Linked DNA regions of Homo sapiens. Each later gene encodes a partner of the first gene's protein in a complex. Each region holds a gene or a part of one and is shown on either strand. Other genes may lie near its edges. The genes, in order: CCT3 and PDCL3. A codon is read from its position in the direction of its gene.

Region 1 (7,000 bases):
CCGGCTGCCCCTACTGGGAAGTGAGGAGCCCCTCTGCCCGGCCACGACCCTGTCTGGGAGGTCTACCCAACAGCTCATTGAGAACGGGCCATGATGACAATGGCGGTTTTGTGGAATAGAAAGGCGGGAAAGGTGGGGAAAAGATTGAGAAATCGGATGGTTGCCGTGTCTGTGTAGAGAGAAGTAGACATGGGAGACTTTTCATTTTGTTCTGTACTAAGAAAAATTCTTCTGCCTTGGGATCCTGTTGATCTGTGACCTTACCCCCAACCCTGTGCTCTCTGAAACATGTGCTGTGTCCACTCAGGGTTAAATGGATTAAGGGCGGTGCAAGATGTGCTTTGTTAAACAGATGCTTGAAGGCAGCATGCTCGTTAAGAGTCATCACCACTCCCTAATCTTAAGTACCCAGGGACACAAACACTGCGGAAGGCAGCAGGGTCCTCTGCCCAGGAAAACCAGAGACCTTTGTTCATTTGTTTATCTGCTGACCTTCCCTCCACTATTGTCCTATGACCCTGCCAAATCCCCCTCTGCGAGAAACACCCAAGAATGATCAATAAAAATAAAAATAAAAAAAAAAAATGTACATGTTATTCATTAGTATGTGCTCCAGTGTTTGAATTCAATATATTTTGTTTCAATTCCAAAGTGTCAATCATGTATATTGAAAGAAAAATAATCAAAAAATACAGTCACGTACCATTTAATGTTTCAGCCAACAATGGACCACATATATGACAGTGGTCCCATAAGATTATAATATCATATTTTTACTGTACCTTTTCTATGTTTAGCTATGCTTATTATACAAATACTTACCACTGTATTATAACTGTATTCAGTACAGTAACATGTTATACAGCTTTGTGGCCTAGAAGCAATAGGCTATACCATACAGCCTAAGTGTATAGTAGGCCGTACCACCCAGGTTTGTAAAGTACACTCCATGAAGTCTGCATAGTAATGAGACTGCCTAATAACGCATTTGTCTCAGAACGTATCCCCATCTTTTTTTTTTTTTTTTTTTTTGAGACGGAATCTTGCTCTGTTGCCAGGCTGGAGTGCAGTGGTGTGATCTGGGCTCACTGCAACCTCCACCTCTCAGGTTCAAGTGATACTCCTGACTCAGCCTCCCGAGTAGCTGGGACTACAGGCACGCGCCACCATGCCCAGCTCATTTTTTGTATTTTTAGCAAAGACAGGGTTTCACCATGTTGGTCAGGATGGTCTCGAATTCCAGACCTCGTGATCTGCCCACCTTGGCCTCCCAAAGTGCTGGGATTACAGGCGTAAGCCACCGCGCCCAGCCCATATCCCCATCATTAAGCAGCATATTATTGCATTTTAAAAGATGGCTGAGTGGCTGGGCATGGTGGCTCACGTCTGTAATCCCAGCACTTTGGGAGGCTGAGGTGGGAGGATCACCTGAAGTCAGGAGTTTGAGACCAGCCTGACCAACATGGTGAAACCCCGTCTCTACTAAAAATACAAAAATTAGCTGGGCATGGTGGCGGGTGCCTGTAACCCCAGCTACTTGGGAGGCTGAGGCAGGAGAATTGCTGGAACCCGGGAGGCAGAGGCTGCAGTGAGCCAAGATCGCGCCAGTGCACTCCAGCCTGGGCGACAGTATGAAACTCTGTCTCGAAAAAAAAAAAAGCAAAAGCCTGAGTAAGATAACTTAGAAAAGGATATACCCTATTAAGAAATTATTAGAACTGTAACAGAAGATTTCTTTAGGGCTGGTCAAGTGTTCTTTTTCACATTCTTAAATCCATCTACATCTAAGATACTTAGACTCATGGATACTTATTCTACCCACTATCTCTAGATGATTCAACTGAAATTATCAGCTAGAAAATTTTCTCTGATATGTAAAGCTCATGTTCTATTACAAAAAATAAAAAATAAAAAAGAGTATGAAATCTTTCCTCCCTCCTCTTTCATCCTTCCAGGTTTTCCCTAAAAGTCCATAACTGGCTATGTTCTGAATCCTCAAAAGAACTGGATCTAAAGATGGACTAGTTGACTGTGACTCTCAAGGACATTTTTATTCAACTCACCATTCTTAAAATGCAGTACAATAGGGCCAGGCGCTATGGCTCACGCCTGTAATCCCAGCACTTTGGGAGGCTGAGGTGGGTGGATGACCTGAGGTTGATAGAGTTTGACACCAGCCTGGCCAACATGGTGAAACCACACCTCTACTAAAAATACAAAAATTAGCTGGGCTTGGTGGCATGCGCCTATAATCCCAGCTACTCAGGAGGCTGAGGCATGAGAATCACGAGCCCAGGAGGCAGAGGTTGCAGTGAGCCAAGATGATGCCACTGCACTTTAGCTTGGGCTACAGAGTGAGACTCTGTCACACAAAAATAAATAAATAAAATTTAAAAATAAAAATAAATAAATAAGGCCAGGCGTGGTGAGACCAGCCTGGCCAACATGGTGAAACCCCATCTCTACTAAAAATTAGCCAGGCACAGTGGCGGGCACCTGTAATCCCAGCTAACAGAAAGGCTGAGACAGGAGAATCACTTGAACCCCAGGGGTGGAGGCTGCAGTGAGCCAAGACTGTGCCACTGCACTCCAGCCTGGGCGACTCTGTCTCAAAGATAAATAAATAAATAAATATAATTTGAAAAATTAGCTAGGCTTAGCCAGGCACGGTGGCTCACAGCCTGTAATCCCAGCACTTTGGGAGGCTGAGGCAGGTGGATCATGAGGTCAGGAGTTCAAGACCAGCCTGGCCAATATGGTGAAATCCCGTCACTATTAAAAATATAAAAATTAGCCGGGCGCGGTGGTGGGCATCTGTAATCCCATCTACTCAGGAGGCTGAGGCAGGAGAATCGCTTGAACCCGGGATCAGAGGCTGCAGTGAGCTGAGATTGCACAACTGTACTCTAGCCTGGGTGACACAGCAAGACTCCATCTCAAAAAGAAAAACACTTTGGGAGGCTGAGGCAGGAGATTGCTTGAGCCCAGGAGTTTGAGGCAAGCCTGGGCAACATGAGACCCCATCTCTACGAAAAATAAATAATAATAATTTTGATTAAGAACTTTATTTTTAGGTATGTGGGCCAACACTATAAATTAGCATCCCTTGGCTGGGCGCAGTGGCTCACACCTGTAATCCCAGTACTTTGGAAGGCCGAGGTTGTCAGATCACCTGAGCTCAGGAGTTCGAGATCAGTCTGGCCAACATGGTGAAACCCTGTCTCTACTAAAAACACAAAAATCAGCCAGGCGTGGTGGCGCATGCCTGTAATCCCAGCTACTAGGGAAGCTGAGGCAGGAGAATCACTTGAACCTGGGAGGTGGAGGTTGCAGTGAACTGAGATTGCGCCAATGCACTGCAGCCTGGGCGACAGAGCAAGACTCTGTCTCAAAAACATAAATAAATAAATAAATAAATAAATAAAATTAGCATCCCTTATTTTAAAATAGTCCCTCTCAGGCCAGGCGTGGTGGCTTACACCTATTATCCCAGCACTTTGGGAGGCAGAGGCGGGCAGATCACCTGAGGTCGGGAGTTCGACACCAGCCTGACCAACATGAAGAAACGCCGTCTCTACTAAAAATACAAATTAGCCAGGCATGGTGGCCCATGCCTGTAATCCCAGCTACTTGGAAGGCTAAGGCAGGAGAATCGCTCGAACCCGAGAGGGGGAGGTTGCGGCGAGCCGAGATTGTGCCATTGCACTCCAGCCTGGGCAACAAGAGTGAGACTCCATCTCAAAAAAAAAAAGAGACATGGTCTTGCTTTGTTGCCCAGGTTGGAGTGCAGTGGCACAAACACGGCTCACTGCAGCCTCAACCTCCTGCCTCACCGACCTCAGCCTCCCCAGTAGCTGGGACTACAGGTGTGTGCCACCACATCCAGCCGATTTTTATTTTTTACAGTGACGCGGTCTCTCCATGTTGCCCAGGCTGGTCTCGAACTCCTGACCTCGTGATCTGCCCACCTTGGCCTCCCAAAGTGCTGGGATTACAGGTGTCAGCCACCACACTTGGTTGCAATCAGATTTTTTAAAACCAGTGTTTCTAGTATAAAAATTTTACTATCATCTTGACATTTACACAATAAAGGCAATAGGCCAAGATTTGAAAAATAATTCTTTATGATCCTATAGGAAGTAGAAAGATTAGTCTTTAAACTTACATAGCCCAGGGTCATTATCCTAAAGATTTCATTTCTTATTATTTGTAACCCCAAAATCAACATTCATGACACTTTCATAGTCATTCATGGAAATTCACAGAATGGCAAAAAATTTGAGTCACCCAATGACATTCCTAGGTGAGGTTAAACAAGGCCTTTAGCTCTCACACTGTAAAAAAAAGTGTCCTTTATGCAGTATATTTAAGGTTATGTTTTTCACATTTTTCTTGATGATTTCGGTATTTATAATGGCTCACAAGTGTAGTGCTTAAGTGCTAGCTAATGCTTCTATGTGCAAGAAGGCTGTGATGTGCCTTACAGAGAAAATACGTTAGGTGAGCTTTGTCCAGGCATGAGTTATATTGCTATGGGCTATGAGTTCAATGCTAATAAATCAACTATATATATTAAATGGGTGTCTTGAAGACAAACACATACAATAAGGTATATATTTATCAGTTGATGAAAGTGTGACCAGAGGCTTATAGGTATCTAACCCTGTATTTCCTATAGAAGCAATGATTTATTATTTGCCAATTCAGTGTTTGTGGTGACTTTATAGGCGTGGTGGCTCACGCCTGTAATCCCAGCACTTTGGGAGGCCAAGGAGGGCGGATCACGAGGTTAAGAGATCGAGACCATCTGGCCAACATGGTGAAACCCTGTCTCTACTAAAAATACAAAAATTAGCTGGGCGTGGTGGCACGTGACTATAGTCCCAGCTACTTGGGAGGCTGAGGCAGGAGAATCGCTTGAACCTGGGAGGCAGAGGTTGCAGTGAGCCAAGATCGCACCACCACACTCCAGCATGGTGACAGAGTGAGACTCTGTCTCAAAAAAAAAAAAAAAAAAGAATATTATAACTTACAGTGAATAAAGAGAATTAACTATTAGTTTATCAGCCAGATTTGCATAGCTCACCCTATTCATATAAATGTTTTATACCCAACTGGAGAGAATACATAGAAAATAACCAATAAGCTATTTAAATATCTGTAATTAGTGGATCTGTAACAGAATTTCCTTCTTAAAATATGACACAGGTGTTACTTCTAATTTTTCCTTATCAACCTCTTATTCTCCTCTTACCAAGAATAATTACTGATGTGGTCCCATCTCCAACCTCTTCATCCTGGGTCCGGCTAATTTCGATCATGGACTTGGCCGCTGGATGCTGGACTTGAATCTAAAAAGGTAGATCACTAGTGAATTCACACTATTCAAAGACCTCTGAACTCATGAAGCTTGGCCCTAACTCTTGGGCTTCTTGCTTCTATACGTACTTACTTTCCCTTTAATGTTTTACCATATCTTGAAAGATTAAAATTGGCACCCCAAATAGCTTAAGTAAACCACTTTCCAAATCCTTTTTGGGAAAAAGTGTATTACATGAACTCAACTATTAAAGCTGCCAGAGGACAGAACGATATCTTTTAGCTTATTTACTGGAAGCACTATTGTGGCTGAATTGTGTTCTTCAGTAAGATACGTTGAAGCCAGCTGGGCATGGTGGCTCACATCTGTAATCTCAGCACTTTGGGAGGCGGAGGCAGGTGGATCGCCTGAGGTCAGGAGTTCGAGACCAGCCTGGCCAACATGGGGAAACCCTGTCTCTACTAAAAGTACAAAAATTAAGCCGGGTGTGGTGGCATGCGCTTGTAATTCCAGCTAATCAGGAGGCTGAGGCAGAAGAATTGCTTGAACCCATGAGGCGGAGGCTGCAGTGAGCCGAGATCACATCACTGTACTCCAGCCTGGGTGACAAGAGCGAGACTCCGTCTCAAAAAAAAAAAAAAAAAAGATATGTTGAAGTCATAACTCCCAGAACCTGTGAATTTTACTTTATTTTAAAATAGGGTTTTTGCAGATGTAACCAAGTTAGATAAGGTCATTCTGAATTAGGGTGGGCTCGAAGACCAATCACCGGTGTCCTTGTGTAAGAGACACACAAGGGGAATAACATGAAGACCAAGGCAGAGACCAAGTTCATGCCAAAGAAAGCCAGCAACCATCAGAAGGGAGAAGCGGAGTTCTTCCCTAGAGACTTCAGAAGGAGCATGGCCCTACTGACGCCTTTATTTCAGACTTCTAGCTTCATTCTATAAGATAATAAATTTCTGTTGTTGAAGCCAACCAGTTTCTGGTAATCTGTTATAGCAGCCCTAAAAAACTAATCAGAGCCTGTATCTTAACAGGTCCTTTATGTTTACAGAACTGTCAGAAAGCAAAAAAACAAAACCAAAAACAAAACACACCTCTCGAAGAATGGCATTGCCATCATTGGTCATCACAATGCCTCCCATTGGGTCCAAAAGCATCTAAGATGAAAGCAAAAGTTATATTTAAAGTGTCCTAGATAACAGGAAGAAAAAAATTGTAGCCTAAGAGTTTTAGGAAGAGATAAGCCTACCTTCATCATGGACTTGGGTCCCAAACATGTTCGGATGATATCTGCAATAGTCTAATGGAAAGGGAACATAAAATACGCAAGCACAAATCAGAGGACAGTGTGAGAAATGTTGGAGTAATAGGGAAAAGGGGCATGAACAACCCACAGAGTCAGTGTTTTATTTTATTTTAATTTTATTTTATTTTTAGATATGGGGTCTCACCATGTTGCTCGGGCTGGTCTCAAACCCCTGGGCCCAAGTGATCCACCTGCCTCAGCCTCCCAAAGTGTTGGGATTAGAGGCGTGAGCCATTCCGCCCAGCCAGAGTCAGTGTTTTTAATGACACCCCTAAAGCATGGTTAGCCATCACTTTAGACATAGCATGCCACTTTAGATATAGGATGTGGCTAGCTCTGTTGTTTTTCTCCCCTTGGGAATGCTTTCA
Region 2 (7,226 bases), on another chromosome or scaffold:
GGCGGAGCTTGCAGTGAGCCGAGATCGTGCCACTGCACTCCAGCCTGGGCGACAGAGCAAGACACAGTCTCAAAATAATAATAATAATAATGACTGAGTGATTCATTCAACAGATAAAACTGAAGTATCTACCACATGTAAATTATTGTAGGCAATGGGGAAGAGTGGTGAATGCGAGAGTCACCTGTGTTACAGACAAGAGGAAGAGACAGGCAACAAACAAGTATATATACAAACTATACATAGAGAGATAAAATTGTGGCAAGTGCAATGACAAACAGGCTGCCATTTTAGAGAATTACCCAGGACCCACATTCCACAGAGTAGATAGGGATGTTCCCTACAGAGGAGGTGACATTCCGTCTGAGGGTGGAAAGCAATCTGTGATAGGAGTCTGGGGGCTTACAAATAATCTTCCAGGCTGGGCACGGTGGCTCACGCCTGTAATCCCAGCACTTTGGGAGGCAGAGGTGGGTGGATCACAAGGTCAGGAGATCGAGAGCATCCTGGCTAACATGATGAAACCCCGTCTTTACTAAAAACACAAAAAATTAGCCGGGCGTGGTGGCGGGCGCCTGTAGTCCCAGCTACTCGGGAGGCTGAGGCAGGAGAGTGGCAGGAACCCGGGAGGTGGAGCTTGCAGTGAGCCGAGATCGAGCCGCTGCACTCCAGCCTGGGCGACAGAGCTAGACTCTGTCTCAAAAAAAAAAAAAAAAATCTTCCAGGCTGGGTGGAGTGGCTCACGCCTGTAATTCCAGCTCTTTGGGAGGCCAAGGCAGGTGGAGCATCTGAGGTCAGGAGTTAAAAGACCAGACTGGCCAGTATAGTGAAACCCCATCTCCACTAAAAACACAAAAATTAGCCAGGTGCACGCCCGTAATCAAGAAAATAATCTTCCAGGCAGAGCGGCCTGCGGCATGCATACTGCCCAAGAGCAAAGAGACTGTGACATTTTGAGGATCTCAGGCTGCAGATGAGGCTTGGCTGACAGAATTCTCTAATGGCCAAACCTGAGAGGAAAAGCTGAGACGTCTCAGAGTAGCTCATAAAATACAGGGCACTCTAAGCCCTTTTTCTTGTACCTTGTCCCTGAATCCTCACAAGCCTAGGAGAGGCACGGCATTTAGAGGCACTGCCATGCTAGAACGGCTGGCCAAATCAGCCAGCATCAAAATCACAAAGGATCATTGTCACAAAGACTGATGTAAAAGTGGCTCTTAGATCTAGAACCCAGCTGCCCAAGCACCGGTTTGCATGGTGTGGCAAGAACACTGCTAATGGAGCTCAGGCTTGCTTTGGAATATGAAATCAGGAGCACTGTGAAAAGGGCACCGGGATAATCGGTCTCCAACCCCAACCCTGTGTAACAGTTCTGAGATACATCAAAAGAAAAATGAGGCCGGGCGCGGTGGCTCATGCCGATAATCCCAGCACTTTGGAAGGCCTAGGCGGGCAGATCACCAGGTCAGGAGATCGAGACAATTCTGGCTAACATGGTGAAACCTTGTCTCTACTAAAAATACAAAAAATTACCCGGGAGTGGTGACGGGCGCCTGTAGTCCCAGCTACTCAGGAGGCTGAGGCAGGAGAATGGCGTGAACTGGAGAGGCGGAGCTTGCAGTGAGCCGAGGTCGCGCCACTGCACTCCAGCCTGGGCGACAGAGCAAGACTCTGTCTCAAAAAGAAACAAACAAACAAACAAACAAAAAGAGCAGAATCCTTTCTACAGGGTGGTCAGGGAAGGCCTCAAGGGACCTGAAGGACAGGGAATGCAAAGGAGGCCAGGGCAGCCCTCAAGCTACCACTTCACCATTTAAGAGTGTCTAGGCCAGGTGCGGTGGCTCATCCTGTAATCCCAACACTTTGGGAGGCTGAGGCTGGGCAACATAGGGAGACCCCATCTGCACAAAAAATTAGCCCAGAGTGGTGGGTGCACGCCTGTGGTCCCAGCTACTCCGGAGGCTGACAAGGGAGGATGGCTTAGCCCCGGGAGGTCGAGGTTGCAGTGAGCTGTGACAGAGCCACTGCACTCCAGCCTGGGCAACAGAGCAAGACCCGGTCTCAAAAAAAAAAAAAACAGTGTCTGGCTCCTGGCAGACACGCCCTCCCCTCCAGCCCCTAATGCCTCCCTCCCCAGCAAAACCCGCACCCTCTCCTCTCCATCTGCCACTAAGCAGAGATTAGAATTTCTGACCACTGCGGGATCTTTGGACAGTGACAAAATTTAGTTGGCATAGGTTTTCACCCACAATAGTGCCCATTTCCATGGTGTTTTCATTCATTCTCCTTAGGCTTTAACCAAATTCCGCTAGTAAATTGCAGCTACAGAAAAATAATTTATTTTACCTATTTTAATAAAAAAAAAAAAAAGGACGAAACAGAGGGACCCTCGCGGGGAGCTCTGGAACCCGAGCGGTCAGATAGGGAACACGCCCCAAGCGGATCCCAGGGCTCGGGGGAAGAGGGTGTAACTAAGCCCTCACCTGGCTCTCAGTGGAGCCAGGAACACCGGCTGTGGCGCTGCTTTACGTGCGGAAGACCCCAGGCCGGACCCTCCGCTTCCTAACACCTCTGCCCAGGTGTGCCTTAGGGGAGTTCAGGAGAGGAGGTAACTTTTGTTAGGCGGGATCCGGCAAGACCTTCACAGGCCCGGGTGGGTAGAGACCGCGAGAAGACATAGTCCCGGAGGACGAGGTTTGGGGGACCCGGCACACCGAGGCGGGGACGCCCAGGCCGTGGGTCCTGGTGGGACCACGCCCGCCTCCCGCACTGCGCCTGCGCAGGGCCTGGACGCGCCGGGCCTCCCTCGTGCCTGCGGCGCCGGAGCTTCCCCCAGGGCGGGCGTCCACTGCCCGCCCGGGCCTAACGAGACAAAGGAACGGGCCGCAGCCCCCAGACCCGAGACCCGTCCTAGCTCACCTGCATCTTGTTTCCAGTTCAGTTGCTCAAACCAGCTGTGCCGCAGCGCCCCCGCCCCTCAGCTCTCTTTTGTGCACGCGCACAGCGCCGCCACGCCTCTTCCCCCAGCCCAGCCTTCGCCCCGCCCAGGGACGAGCGGCGGGGAGTAAGGGCGGAAGCAACAGCCTTGAGTCTGCGCCTGCTCTTCAAGGAACTGGCACAGAAGCGTTCGCATGCGCCAGATAGGATCTGCCTACTGTCCTGCTCGGAGTGCACTTGACCTGGTTCTAATTCTGGTGGCTGCCTTATTAGGGCTGGTCTTCAGCGGAGGAGGGGTGGGGCTGGGTGGAGGAGGAGCCCGGGGCCGTGTGCCTTTTCCAGCTGCCGGCCCAAACCTGTAAAGACGTCTCGCTCTGACTAGCCTAACAAGTCAGAAATAGAAAATTGCCTCTAGGCCGGGCGCGGTGGCACACGCCTGTGATCCCAGGCCGAGGCGGGCGGATCACTTGAGGTCAGGAGTTCGAGATCAGCCTGGCCAACATGGTGAAACCCCGTCTCTACTAAAAATACAAAAAAATTAGCCGGGCGTAGTGGTGGTTGCCTGTAATCCCAGCTACTCTGGAGGCTGAGGCAGAAGAATTGCTTGAACGGGGGAGGCGGAGCTTGCAGTGAGCTGAGATCTCTCCACTGCACTCCAGCCTGGGTTACAGAGCGAGACTCCGTCTTAAATAAATAAATAAATAAAAATGATGCAGGGTCTTCTGGAATTCACCCACGATCACTTCAGCCTTGGAAAAGGCAACTCATTAATAAGACATTGAGAGCCTGCTGTGTACCAGGCACCATTCTAGGCTCTGCAGATGCAGCAGTGAGCAAAACACTAAAACAAAGGTGAAAGTCATCTGCCGTGCCTGAGTATCAGGAGACCCATGTATGCAGGCACACAGGCACTGAGCAAAAAGCAGCAATCTGACTTGTAAAATGCAGGTATTGGGCTCCAGAGCTTCTGCCCAGGCACACTCCAAGTTTAAGAGAGCAATATTCCTACCTGGTATGGAAGGAAGCATCTTGCACACGTGGGCTAACTTGCTGCCTCCTGGCAACTAAGCGGACACAGAGAGTAGAGACCCACACACCTGTGAGATAGGCGCAGGGCTTCCAACCGTGGCTATGCATTAGAATCACCTGGAAGCCCTCAAAAACTAGGAATGTCCTGGGGCTCCATCCCCAGACAAATTAAATCCTTGGAAATGAGGCCTAGCACAGATACTTTCTTAAAGATCCTCAGGTGATGCTAAAGTGCACAGTCGTTGATATAGAGTGAATCAAATGATTGCTTGAGAGCAAGGAGTTTTTATTTAATTTATAAGGATCCTTAAGATTTTTCTCACTCATTTCAACTGAATTACAGGCCCTTTTAGGGATTTATTAATGTATCTGGCAGCACAATGTTTGTTAATGAATTTTCCTTGGGTCTTACCACCAAAATCAGGACTGGAACTAACTTTGAGTTTGATCCTGTGCTTCTTGCTCAGTCCTGCACAGCAACAGAGCAGGTGGTGTTTTGTCCTTTCCTCATCCCCAGCCTTTGCTGTTCCCTGAGGCCTGTTTTCCAGGACTCAGCTATTCTACAGTTGCTCTTCCCCACATGATCCGGTCAGAGGCATTCTAACCAAAGCCAATCCATCCTGAATAGGGGATGGGGAAAAGGAGGCTGAGACCTACTGGGTTGTATTCCCAGAAGGTTACGCATGCTTAGTCACAGAATATTTACCAAACAGACCTAAGACAACAGACCCAGGAAATGGCCTGGTGTCCTGAAAGCTTTCTTTTTTCTTTCTTTTTTTTGAGATGGAGTTTCACTCTTGTTGCCCAAGCTGGAGTGCAATGGCGTGATCTCGGCTCACTGCAATTTCCACCTCCTGGGTTCAAGCGATTCTCCTGCCTCAGCTTCCGAATAGCTGGGATTACAGGTGCGCGCCACCACGCCTGGCTAATTTTTTTTTTTTGTATTTGTAGTAGAGACGGGGTTTCACTGTGTTAGCCAGGCTGGTCTCGAACTCCTGACCTCAGGTGATCCACCTGCCTTGGCCTCCCAAAGTGCTGGGATTAAAGGTGTGAGCCACCGCACCTGGCCTTGTTTTGTTTTTTTGAGAGTCTCTCTTTGTTCCCCACCCTGGAGTGCAATGGCAAGATCTCAGCTCACTGCAGCCTCCCCCTCCTGGGTTCAAGTGATTCTCCTGCCTCAGCCTCCCAAGTACGTGGGATTACAGGCATGCACCACCACGCCGGGCTAAGTTTTGTATTTTTAGTAGAGACAGGGTTTCGCCATTTTGGTCAGGCTGGTCTCGAACTCCTGAGCTCCTCATCCCAAAGTGCTGGGATTACAGGCGTGAGCCAGAGTGCTGGGATTACAGGTGTGAGCTACCACGCCCAGCCAAGAACAAAAGCATTCTTAAAGTTTTGTTTTAACAATAATATAGATTATTGGGAAAGACAGTAGTTATGAAATCTGGCCCAATAGTCCCACAGACAGTTGTTTTTGGATAAACATAGACATTGACCCTTCTGCTGTTAAAGCTTGAAACTTGTATCTGTTTAATCTGAGTTTCTTCCTTAGGAAAGGACCTTCAGGCCTCTCAGAAAAAGTATCAAAGAACTGAAACTCAACAGATGACCTCACCAGATGCATCCTTGCCCTTCCCTCTTCTTGTTTTCTTACACCATGTTACATTTCTTCCCTGCTATATAAACCCCTAGTTTTAGTCAGTCGGGGAGATGGATTTGAGACTGATCTCCTGTCTCGTCTCCTTGTCTCCTCGGCTGCAGCACCCAATTAAAGGCTTCTTCCTTGGGAATACTTGTCATCCCAGTGATTGGCTTTCTTTTTTTTTTTTTTTTTTTTTTTTTCCGAGACAGAGTCTCGCTCTGTCACCCAGGCTGGAGTGCAGTGGCGCAGTCTCGGCTCACTGCAAGCTCCGCCTCCCGGGTTCAAATGATTCTCCTGCCTCAGCCTCCCGAGTAGCTGGGACTACAGGCGCCTGCCACCACGCCCGGCTAATTTTTTGTATTTTTAGTAGAGGCAGGGTTTCACTGTGTTAGCCAGGATGGTCTTGATTTCCTGACCTCGTGATCTGCCAGCCTCAGCCTCCCAAAGTGCTGGGATTACAGGCGTGAGCCACCACGCCCAGCCCCATCCCTCTTGCTTTTGTCAAAATTATTCTTTTGTTATTCTTTCCACCTGTGCTCCAGATCCTCTCACCTCCCTCAGGGACTTCTTTCATCTTTCCATCCTTCTTGGCTGTGGAGAAAATAATTACAGCTTATGAGAAAAGATCAGAGATATACGAATTAGAAAAAATAAACTATTTCTATTTGTGGATGATATAGCATCCTGGAAAACTCAGCGGAACCGAGTCTTAAATTCATACTAACAATATGATAATTCAGTATAGGAGCAGGATATAAAATTAACACAAAAATAGTCTTCATCCGTGTTTACAATAACAAACTACAAGACAAAATGGACTCCAATTACAATAACAACAGAAAAGAAAAAGCTCTTGGAAACAAAGAAGTAGGCAAAACCTGCATTAGTTAAATTTAAAAACTTTTCTGAAGATACAAAAGTAGACTAGAACAAATGGACAAACATCCTTTATTTTTGGATAGTATGACTCAACATCATAGAGATATCAATTTTCTCCAAGTCAATATGTAAAATTTAACACGATGTCAAAAATCCAACAAATTATTTTTTGAGGCTAGGCAGCTTGACTCCAAAATTTTTATCAAGAATAGCACAAGGCAGAAGGGAGAGCTAGCCCTACTAAACCTTAAAACAATGTGGTGTTAGTACATAAATAGACAAAGAGATCAAGAGAGCAGCACAGCAAGTTCAGAACAAGCCCAGAAATAGAGCCCAGTACATATAAACATTAGTGTATGCTTAGACGAGACGGTATCTCAATCTGCTGGGATGGACTTTAAATAAATGGTGTTCGGACAACTGGATAACCATTTGGAAATAGATAAAATTGGATACATACTTCACAGTGTATATCAGAATAAAAAGTAAAAACTAAAAGTACTAGGAGAACACATGGCATAATTTCTTTATAACCTAAAAATGGAAAAAAACTTTGATTACTAAAAGTCTAAAAGAAATCAAATTAAAACAATGATTCTACTACTTAGTTTTTTTGTATAGAAATAATGTATATAAGCACGCTGCCTTTTGTGTAAAATAAAAGGTGAAATAAAATACATTTATGTCAGCCGGGCGCAGTGGCTCATGCCTGTAATCCCAACACTTTGGGAGGCCAAGG

Evidence for each region.
Region 2: the proteins of CCT3 (region 1) and PDCL3 are in contact, whole or in part, in a cryo-EM structure (PDB 8I6J), measured with the Homo sapiens proteins. Residues at the interface, in NP_005989.3 of Homo sapiens: Met47 (codon at 6,581), Pro53 (codon at 6,471), Met54 (codon at 6,468), Val58 (codon at 6,456), Met59 (codon at 6,453), Thr60 (codon at 6,450), Asn61 (codon at 6,447), Asp62 (codon at 6,444), Ala65 (codon at 6,435), Arg68 (codon at 6,426), Glu69 (codon at 6,423), Arg167, Ile258, Glu261, Phe264, Leu268, Gln269, Glu271, Ser297, Asp298, Leu299, His302, Ser380, Glu382, Ile383, Arg389; in NP_076970.1 of Homo sapiens: Glu66, Ala70, Met73, Tyr74, Arg75, Arg77, Arg78, Trp82, Leu182, Pro212, Lys213, Ile216, Glu217, Asp218, Val219, Arg226, Leu229, Met230.

Annotation. Positions count from the first base shown.
Region 1 is NC_000001.11:156,328,293-156,335,292, forward strand, and holds part of CCT3 (T-complex protein 1 subunit gamma), read right to left. Parts: intron 6,627-7,000; coding exon 6,576-6,626; intron 6,484-6,575; coding exon 6,421-6,483; intron 5,352-6,420; coding exon 5,255-5,351; intron 1-5,254. UniProt on the Homo sapiens protein: Component of the chaperonin-containing T-complex (TRiC), a molecular chaperone complex that assists the folding of actin, tubulin and other proteins upon ATP hydrolysis.
Region 2 is NC_000002.12:100,558,767-100,565,992, reverse strand, and holds the start of PDCL3 (phosducin-like protein 3), read right to left. Parts: upstream 3,001-7,226; 5' UTR 2,926-3,000; coding exon 2,920-2,925; intron 2,689-2,919; exon of another isoform or gene 2,484-2,688; intron 1-2,483. UniProt on the Homo sapiens protein: Acts as a chaperone for the angiogenic VEGF receptor KDR/VEGFR2, increasing its abundance by inhibiting its ubiquitination and degradation.